Regions from separate parts of the Homo sapiens genome. Here region 2 is linked to region 1. The links come from fine-mapping of genetic effects on gene expression. A gene starts in region 1. The other region holds a variant in brackets. All regions are shown on one strand. Distances are from middle to middle.

Region 1 (5,536 bases):
AATTCAAAGTTAAAATAATTATTAGAATACTCATTTCTTAAAAGTTACAACATAGATAAAAACAAAACATGGCAATTTTAAAAGAACAAAATGTACATATAAACTTTGATAGGTATAATAACCTAAAAGAATACTTACATGTATGGAGGCATTCCGTCACTGTTGTTGGCTTGATCAGATACCCTTTACAGATATAGCAGGTAATGTAAGGATTAAAATCTTTCACCAAGTGTTTCCTTTGGGTAGCCATTCGTGGCTAGTGAAGACTGGCTTTAGTAGTCTGGGCAAAGAGGGGTCCTAAGTAGATGAAAGTCTGATCCCAGGAGCTGGTGTGTCGTTCCCAGTAGGATGTCCTGAGGCATGAGAACTAGCATCCAGATTTATCATGAGATCGTTGATCATCACTCCTTTTGGTGGTTCCGCTTTCCCATGTCTGTTTCCAAAATCATTTCAAAAAGATGAGAGAAAAAAGCGTCAAATTCCTCATAATGTATTAATGTCATTCTATTAACAGCAAGTGTTACATGTTCCCAATTGGGTGAATAGGTGAATAGAACATATCCTTCATTGTATCATTAACTTGCAAATCTGCTATAATTCAGAATAATGACAAATTCATCCAGTCCTGGAACCTCAACTACCACCTCTATACTAATGACACCCAAAGCTATTAACTACAGTTTGATATCTTTACCTCTTCACTAATGCATTTTAACTATCTGCTTGACTGCTCTATTAGGAGTCCCTGCCAATACAAGTTAAAAGATTAAAAACTTAAGTAATTATCCTCCCTATCAAAATGTTCCCCATTTCCATTTTTAACCCTTCATCCAGTTACGAGTCAAACCAAGTTGATATCCTCTGCTATTCCATGCCCGGCTGCTCTACTTGTATATCACCTCTCCACCTGCAGTCCATCTTATATTCTGCTACGAGGCACATTTTATTTTGTGACACTTGGTTGGGTCTTCTTATCAACGAATGTCAGTGTCTTCTCTTTACAAACAGAAAAATGTTTCCCATTCTGTCACATAAGACCTTCTACAGGTTAACCTTAATATACCCTTCAACAACTTTCTTCAACCTGAAGGGATCACTCCTCTCCCACCGTCTCCTCTGCAGGTTCTAAGCACTCTATCCAACACGCCCTTTCTCTCCTCTGTCTGCATGCCACCTATCCTTCAAGCCCTTCTCCAATGCTATTCTCAGTGCAATCTTTCCCTAGTTTTTAATGCTTACTTCTTTCCTATTACATTTGCCTTTTATTTTGATTTATAGTTACGTTCATTCTTTACCTTCTTTGTTAGACCAAAAACTCTTCAATAGAAACTGGTCATATTTAGTAGATATATAACCTGGATAATGCTACTTTCCTGTCTCAGGTTTTTTTTTTTTTTTAACTGTAAAATATGTATCCTCTCAGAAAACACAACATGAAAGGTGTTGATTTTCCTAAGTGCATTCTATAAACAGGAACTTTCCCCCATCTTAGCTGTTAACTCATTGGTAAATATAAAGCAACCGGAAAGGTAAAAGGCATTCCATCAACACATACCCACTGCGAATGTGCAGGGAATAGGCTCTACGTGTAATCATCCTATCCTCTTGGGAAACCGTATTCGTGCGTGTAACAGAAAGCAAGCATAATTAAAAGACAGGGAATCAGGGTTCTGGCCCTTACCCCTGTATGACCTTCAGCAAACCGTTTCATATCTGAGCCTGGGTCTCGGCTTCCTCCTCTATAAGTTGGGATTAACTGCCTTGCCTTTCCCACAGGTTTGCCATGAAACTCCAAAGTAAGAGAAAGTCCTCTGGAAGAGGAAATGCACGGTCCCGACCTGGGGTGGTACTAAGATCCTAAGGCACAGAGCCCTGTGACCAAGACAGTTAAGGGAAGCAAGAACTTGCAATGACGGGGCGGGGGCAAGGGGGAACTTTTCTGCGTTCTCCGGCAGGACCCAGCGGTACAGCCCTGTGGGGTCCCAGCACAGCCGCGCCCGCCCGGCAGGTGCGCGGGCCCAGGCCCCGCGGGCGCGCTGCTCAGGCCGGGGAGAGCGAGCAGCCTTTCCCGGGGCCGGCGTCCGCAGCCGGCCGCTCTCCCCGCCGAGGTAGGCACAGCTCCGAAGCCCCCGCCCGGGTCGGTAGCCCCCTGCACCCGAAGGGCCCTCCCGGCTCCAGGCTGGGCCGGCCAGGGCAGGTGTCTGGAGGTGTCGCTCTCGCCTGAGGCGCAAACTTGGGTGAGGAGTCTGGCGTCCCTGCAGCTCCCCAGCCCGCCCGGTACCTACCCAGCGGCCGCCACCGCCGCCGCTCCTCGCCCGCCAGCGCGCCGGCCTCAGAGTGAAGGAAAGTGAAACAGAAACAGCACCCGCCGCGGCCTGGCCGGTCCCCGCGCCCCGTCTGCTCTCCCCCTGCAGGCGGGAGCGCGCCGGCTCTGTGGGGCCACTCGGCTCAGGCCCGACAGGGCGCGGCGGGCCTCGGGGCCCAGGTCCGGTGCCGCCTCCAAGGGCAACTCCACCCACTTCCAACCGGCGGCACCGCCCGCCCCGCCGCCCGGCCACGCCCCCGCCGCCCGGCCACGCCCACCACCACGCCCGGAGGCCGCGCCTGCCGCCTGCGCTGCTCGCAGGTGCAGCTGCCGCCCTGGCTCCCTGTGCTACACGTAGCTCTGGCCAAATATTATCTCGGTTCTTCTTATCCTCACCGTCCACCCCTTCGGTTGTTTACATCATAACAATGACTGGCATATTTTCCCTGGAGGGTTTAAAAGCAACGGTCAGTGATGAGACTGACGCACCCTGAGAATTTGTCTCTTCAGCTGCGTCTTCCCCAAGTCTGTCCCACCTGCGCCGAAGTGGGGACAAAGCCATCCCTTGATTTGCACCTTATCTGAAAATGACTGACAAACTTGTTACTGTAGTGTGGGTCCAGAGATCATGGTCGTTGACAACTATAAGCAAACGGGAACGTTGTGGAGGTTGAGGGTGGGGGGAGGGTGAGTGGTAAAGAAGCATTACTGTTTGCAACGTTCAAAACAAACAAAAACCCAGTACTCTTTCTAGTGGACTTTGAGATCTACAAGAGACCATTCACTGCAAAAACCTTCATTCAAAAATGTGTATTCTAGAAGCCAGAGCAGTGATGGCTTAAGAAAATGACAATAATAGAGGGTAGGGGAGACTGTCAATGCAAAATATTTGCTTTTTCTCCAACTGATAGGCGTTAACTTCTTACTAAAGTGATAGATGACTCTAAGTGGCAAACCAACAAACTTAACAACCGCTAGTCCAGCAGCCATACAAGTGTTCAAAGATCCATTTCAAATTTAAAATGCATCAAGCAGTAGACCAAGGCAGCTTTTTAAACTATCCATTTTATAATCAAACTTTGACATGTTTAAAAATTGCCATTTCTAATATCACAGCAGGAGCAATACATTTTCTGAAACAGCTTTAAATGACCACATTCGTATAGTCCTTTAAAGAACCATTTTCCAAAATCATACATGCCAATGTCCAAGCTGGGATCAACTTCATAAGTCGCAGCAATCACAATGAGTAAGAGAAAACAAGTGAGGTCAAATGACTTCATGGCAGTAGGATTACTCTTTATGCTTCATATCTTTCATTTCAGAGACTAAACAGAACAGTATGTGAAAAATCACACTACTTCTAGTGTGTTTAAAATATGCATTGGAGGATATTACTGTATATATACCACAATATATAAAAAAGACTTGGTATGTTCCTATTTTGTGTCTGAAACTATTTTAAATATGTTTTAAAAGAATAACAGTGGAGTCCAGGGGGCTTAAATGTGATTGGTGACCTATCACAAGTGCGGTTAATCAGTATTCCTGAAGGAAACGAGCTTGAAGGCGGGTTTTAGGATGACATATGTTAGCAATGAAGGAAGGGGTCACAAACATGTGATACAGCAGTACCTGAGGATGAATGTGGAGGTGGGGTTGCCAGAATGGACTTGGGATGAGGGAGAACTACAACTTTTATAAGGCAATCTGTGCTTTGTGTCTGGAGAGGCAGCAATAGTTTGCAGTTAAGTGTTCTGTGGTTTCGCCTCTGCCTTCTTCAGCAACCATTCCATCTCTCCCACCCCAATTTAAAAAAATGCACACATACACAAAATAAAAACAAGTTTAAAAACTCAAACATTTGTCTGGTTAAAAAAATAATAATAGGCCTGGCACGGTGGCTCATGCCTGTAATCCTAGCACTTCTGGAGGCCGAGGTGGGCGGATCATGAGGTCAGGAGTTTGAGACCAGCCTGGCCAATATGGCGAAACCCCATCTCTACTAAAACAAAAATCAGCCGGGCATGGTGACATGCGCCTGTAGTCCCAGCTACTCAGGAGGCAGAGGCAGGAGAATCGCTTGAACCTAGGAGGTGGAAGTTGCAGTGAGCCGAGATCGCACCACTGCATTCTAGCCTGGGAGACAGAGCAAGGCTCTGTCTCAATAATAATAATAAAATAAGAATAATAACAAAAGTAATGGTAAGAGGGAGTGTTGTGAAATGGCAACTTTCCTGTGTGATGTGTATGCAGATTGTAAGTATTAAAACATGGGACTTTCAGCTGCTGTGCTGCCTCTCCTTCTCCCCTGGGGCTCCTTACCAGTTACTTATCCTAGTCTAGTCCCTTGGTACTGCCAGTGGGGGCAGAGGACAAATGACGGAAGCTACAACATGAGGGGGTAGCTCTGATAACAAATCTCAAGTACCAGTGGGACCCTCAAGTAAACAAAGGCCTGGAAGCAACTGGATATAGGACCAGGGGAAAAAAAAAGGCAGGATAAAGGAATCATAGCTGGGAGTCCCCTTATCAATAATGTACTTCAGCTTTCTCATTTTATAGATGTAGAAACTAAGATCCTGAGACGTGGTGAATTCATAATTACAGAGCTGATTCTGGTAGAGCCAAGACAAAAACAAAGGTGTCAGCTTCAGTTTTCTTTAATACCTCTTGAGAGTACTTCTCAAGTCCCAGAACTTAAGGGAGGTCTGGTAAGAAACAGATTAGGGCTGCGCACGGTGGCTCACGCCTGTAATCCCAGCACTTTGGGAGGCCAAGGCGGGCAGATCAACTGAGGTCAGGAGTTCAAGACCAGCCTGGCCAACATGGTGAAATCCTGTCTCTACTAAAAATACCAAAATTAGCCAGGCTTGGTGGCAGGTGCCTGTAATCCCAGCTACTAGGGAGGCTGAGGCAGGAGAATCACTTGAACTTGGGAGGTGGAGGTTGCAGTGAGCCAAGATCGCGCCATTGCACTCTAGTCTGGGGCACAAGAGCGAGACTATGTCTAAAGAAAAAACACACAGATTAACTTTTTTTGTTGTTGTTAAACAAGGAAGAAAGAAAGGGAAGAATGGATGAGGAGAGGGAGGGAAATAACTGTCTAGATGGCACTTAGGAGTGAAGTGGCCACTGGTGATTCCCTATCAAAGAAGCATAATCCCAAAGTGATAACTGCTGCATTTGAGTATTGGCCCAGACTCTTCCAGAGAACCACAAATGGCTCTT
Region 2 (5,000 bases), 38 kb before region 1:
TGCTTTAAGTTTTAGGGTACATGTGCACAACGTGCAGGTTTGTTACATATGTATACATGTGCCATGTTGGTGTGCTGCACCCATTAACTGGTCATTTAGCATTAGGTATATCTCCTACTGCTATCCCTCCCCCCTCCCCCACCCCACAACAGTCCCCAGAGTGTGATGTTCCCCTTCCTGTGTCCATGTGTTCTCATTGTTCAATTCCCACCTATGAGTGAGAACATGCGGTGTTTGGTTTTTTGTCCTTGTGATAGTTTGCTGAGAATGATGGTTTCCAGCTTCATCCATGTCCCTACAAAGGACACGAACACATCATTTTTTATGGCTGCATAGTATTCCATGGTGTATATGTGCCACATTTTCTTAATCCAGTTTATCGTTGTTGGACATTTGGGTTGGTTCCAAGTCTTTGCTATTGTGAATAGTGCCACAATAAACATATGTGTGCATGTGTCTTTATAGCAGCATGATTTATAATCCTTTGGGTATATACCCAGTAATGGGATGGCTGGGTCAAATGGTATTTCTAGTTCTAGATCCCTGAAGAATCGCCACATCGACTTCCACAATGGTTGAACTAGTTTACAGTCCCACCAACGGTGTAAAAGTGTTCCTATTTCTTCACATCCTCTCCAGCACCTGTTGTTTCCTGACTTTTTAATGATGGCCATTCTAACTGGTGTGAGATGGTATCTCATTGTGGTTTGATTTGCATTTCTCTGATGGCCAGTGACGATGAGCATTTTTTCACATGTCTGTTGGCTGCATATATGTCTTCTTTTGAGAAGTGTCTGTTCATACCCTTTGCCCACTTTTTGATGGGGTTGTTTTTTCTTGTAAATTTGTTGGAGTTCATTGCAGATTCTGGATATTAGCCCTTTGTCAGATGAGTAGGTTGCAAAAATTTTCTCCCATTCTGTAGGTTGCCTGTTCACTCTGATGGTAGTTTCTTTTGCTGTGCAGAAGCTCTTTAGTTTAATTAGATCCCATTTGTCAATTTTGGCTTTTGTTACCATTGCTTTTGGTGTTTTAGACATGAAGTCCTTGCCCATGCCTATGTCCTGAATGGTATTGCCTAGGTTTTCTTCTAGGGTTTTTATGGTTTTAGGTCTAACATGTAAGTCTTTAATCCATCTTAATTTTTGTATAAGGTGTAAGGAAGGGATCCAGTTTCAGCTTTCTACATATGGCTAGCCAGTTTTCCCAGCACCATTTATTAAATAGGAAATCCTTTCCCCATTTCTTGTTTTTGTCAGGTTTGTCAAAGATCAGATAGTTGTAGATATGCGGCATTATTTCTGAGGGCTCTGTTCTGTTCCATTGGTCTATATCCCTGTTTTGGTACCAGTACCATGCTGTTTTGGTTACTGTAGCCTTGTAGAATACTTTGAAGTCAGGTAGCGTGATGCCTCCAGCTTTGTTCTTTTGGCTTAGGATTGACTTGGCAATGCGGGCTCTTTTTTGGTTCCATATGAACTTTAGTTTTTTCCAATTCTGTGAAGATTATAAAGTATAACTTCTGAAACATGAGGGACATTTTCTAAAACATGGTATCACAGCTTTTAAATAATTTCAGAAAGAGCAGTGATGTCAAATGGGACCCTGAGGAGCCATAGGGTTCAACAGAGAGAGGCTGGTTAGGCCACAGCATGCCCCAGAAATTAGAAGTTGCATAGTGTGGACCTTGTGTTGGGGAGAATAGTGTCTGATAGGCTGTGCCAGTACTTTACTGGAAGAACAAACTTCTCTGTGCCTGATGTGTCTCATTTGTAAAATGTGCAGAGCAGTACTAATTCACTCTTTAAGCTTGACTATCACTAAAATATAAGAACCAATCCAGAAGGGACACCCAAGCTGAAAATGAAGTAAAATGAGGTTGTAGACATAATAAACACGAACCAATATGTGAAACAAAATTACATTCCACAACCTCAAAAGTTATCAGAATACTAAAACACACAAAACAACAATAGAATCTTTTAAAGATATTACTCCTATTTGTATGTATAGGAAATGAGGTCAGCATCACTAAGTCACAACTGTTCAGTCAATGTTTATTTCCTAGCAAATGTTTTCCTAGCAAAACATATTTCCTGGCAAAGACCAACAGAAATAAATTAACAAATAACAACCTGGTCACAATACAGATGATAAAATATCCATTAAAAGAAAACAGAAGTTAAAAGTTACATCTAAATCAACACATATTCTACCCATTTCAAATGTGAAGACGGATATTCTAGACAGCATGAAAACAAAGGGATAAATGTACACGTCTATCTTCTCTGTTATCTGTTCACCTTCTCAACTATCCCAAGGTTTCCTGTCAATTTTCTTCTTGCCCCAAACAGCTTACAAAGAATCATTAGCACATTTTTACAAGCCCCAGTTAAGTCAGAGAAGAATATAAGGGTGTAGGTTGATCATCCCCAGTCTGAAATCTGAAATGTCCCAAAATCTGAAACTGAGGGCTGACATGACACTCATTCATTTCAGATTTGGGAGGTTCAACTGTAAGTATATACAATGCCAATATTCCAAAACCCAAAAAACTTCTGGTCCCAACCATTTTGGATAAGGGATACTCAACCTGTACTGGAAGACTCTTAATTTGTGTATTTTTCATCTGTCAAGAAATTAGGAAGAATCTCCAGAAATGATGTT[T/G]GTATCACTACTTACAATCTTTCACAGATTAATTATAGTTTTTATACTATTCGCAAAGTTGTACAACCATTACTATGATCTAATTCCAAAACATTTTCATCATCCTCAAAAGTAACCCAAATCTATTCACAGTCACTCCGCAACCTTCCCTCCTCCCATCCCCTGACAACCCTAATCTACTTTGTCTTTATCCTTGTCTGGATATTTCGTATAAATGGAATCACATAATATGTGACCTTTTGTGTCTGGCTTCTTGCACTTAGCATAAAGTTTTCAAGATTCATCTATTTTGTAGCATGTATCAGTACTTCATTGCAGTTTATGACTGAATAGTATCACATTTCCTTTCATTCTGCTTTTCCATTCATCAGCTGATAGACATTTGGGTTGTTTTCACTTTCTGGCTATTACAAATAATGCTATTATGAATATACATATACAAGATTTTGTGTGAACATGTTTTCAATTCTTTTATACAGTAGTCCCTCCTTATCTGCAGTTTCACTTTCCTTGATTTCAGTTACCCAGTCAATATATCACTGTCCAAAAATACAAAATGGAAAATTCTAGAAATAAACAATTCATAAGTTTTAAGCTGCATACAATTCTGCATAGCATGTTAAAATCTTGCACCATCCTACTCCGTCCTGCCCAGGTTGTGAATCCTCCCTTTGTCCAGCATATTCATGCTGTATAGGCCACCTGTCCATTAGTGACTTAGCTATCTCAGTTATCAAATTAAAAAAACCAGTATATACAGGATTATTTGGTACTATCTGTGGTTGCAACATCCCCTGGGGGTCTTGGAACATATGCTCCACAGATAAGGGGGGGACTACTGGATATGATCACATACTTAGAAGTGGAATTACCACGTCAACTCTTTGAGGAACTGCTAAAGTGTTTTCCACAGTAGCTGCACTTTCACCTTCCCACTAGCAACGTATAAGGTTTCAATTTGTCCACATTCTCTAACATTTATTATTTTCCTTAAAAAAAATTTCTGGCCATCCTAGTAGGTATAAAATGATATCTCATTGTGGTTTTGATTTGCAGAGCCCCAGTGACTAGTGATATTTAGCAACTTTTCCTGTGCTTATTGGTCATTTTTATAACTTCTTTAGAGGAATGTTTATTCAAGCCTTTTGCCTTTTTCCAAATTGGGCCATCTTTTTATTGTTGATTTATAAGAGTTCTTCATATACCTGTACATTAAAGGCTTATCAGACATGATTTGCAAATATTTTTTCCCGTTCTGTAACTTTTTTCACTTTAAGTGTCCTTTGATACACAAGAGTTTTACATTTTAATGAAGTTTTACATTTACAATTTATCTATTTCTTTTCTTTTGTTGCTTGTGCTTTTGGTGTCATTTCTAAGAATCCACTGCCAAATCCAAGGTCATGGGAATATCTTAATTTCTCCTTCCTTTTGGAAGGCTATAGATTTTTGATGAATATAGACTTAACTAGTTGACAGTTTTCTTTCTTTGAGCACTCTGCATATATTATCCTATTGCCTTCTATCCTCCACAGCTTTTGGTGAGAAATCAGCTACTAACCCTACTGGGGGTCCTTTGTGCATGAGTCACTTTTATATTGTTGCTTTCAAGATTCTCTCTTTGTCTTTGAATAGTTTGATTATGATGTGCCTAGGTATGAATTTCTTTGAATTTATCATACCTGAAGATTGTTAAGCTTCTCAAATGTTTAATATTTTTCATCAAATTTGGTTGGTTTTTAGGGGCCATTATTTCTTCAAATATACTTTCTGTCCTTTTTTCTCCATTTCCTCTCCTTCTGGAACTTCCATTATGTGTATGCTGGTAAGCTTGATGGTGTCTACAGCTCTCTGAGGACCTGTTCATTTTTCTTCATTCTATTTTTCTGTTTCTCAGACTGAATAATCTCAATTCATTTAACTTCAATTTTACAGGTTCTTTTTCTTTGGCTCAAGTCTGCTGTTGAGCCTCACCAGTAAAATTTTCATTTCTGTTGCTATACTTTTCAACTCCAGAATATTAAAAGACATTTAATATTCTGTATTTGGTGAGATCATTCTTGTATTTTCATATAGTGCCCAGACCATGGTTTTAGTTCTTTGTGCATATTTAAATAGATAATTTCAAATCTATGCCTAATAAGTACAATGTCTGGGCTTCCTCAGCGACAGTTTCTATTGACTGCTTCTTTTCCTGTGTATGGGTCAAACAATCAGCTCTCTGTAACTGCAGTCCTGCATTTGTGAATTCAAGCAATCACAGATCAAAAATATTTTTAAAAACAATAAAAATAACAATAATAAAAATAATATAGTATTAACAACTACTTACA

Evidence for each region. PIP is the estimated chance that this variant, and not a neighbour inherited with it, causes the effect. A credible set is the group of variants that fine-mapping cannot tell apart.
Region 2: its variant is the best candidate, but not a certain one, in a credible set for the expression of PCGF5 in whole blood (INTERVAL, PIP 0.67).

Annotation. Positions count from the first base shown.
Region 1 is chr10:91,217,586-91,223,121 of GRCh38, reverse strand. It overlaps PCGF5 (polycomb group ring finger 5), which reads right to left and starts at 2,459. Exons shown (of 10, transcript NM_032373.5): 1 at 2,286-2,459; 2 at 139-433. The coding sequence starts at 250. RefSeq lists silencers at 1,836-2,130, 1,820-2,279, 2,350-2,659 and an enhancer at 2,850-2,919.
Region 2 is chr10:91,255,956-91,260,955 of GRCh38, reverse strand. The region is part of intron 6 of PCGF5 (polycomb group ring finger 5); the gene reads right to left. Among named protein-coding and RNA genes, the nearest start is that of PCGF5, 38 kb to the right of the region's middle. The variant T/G (reference allele first, on the strand shown) is at 2,668.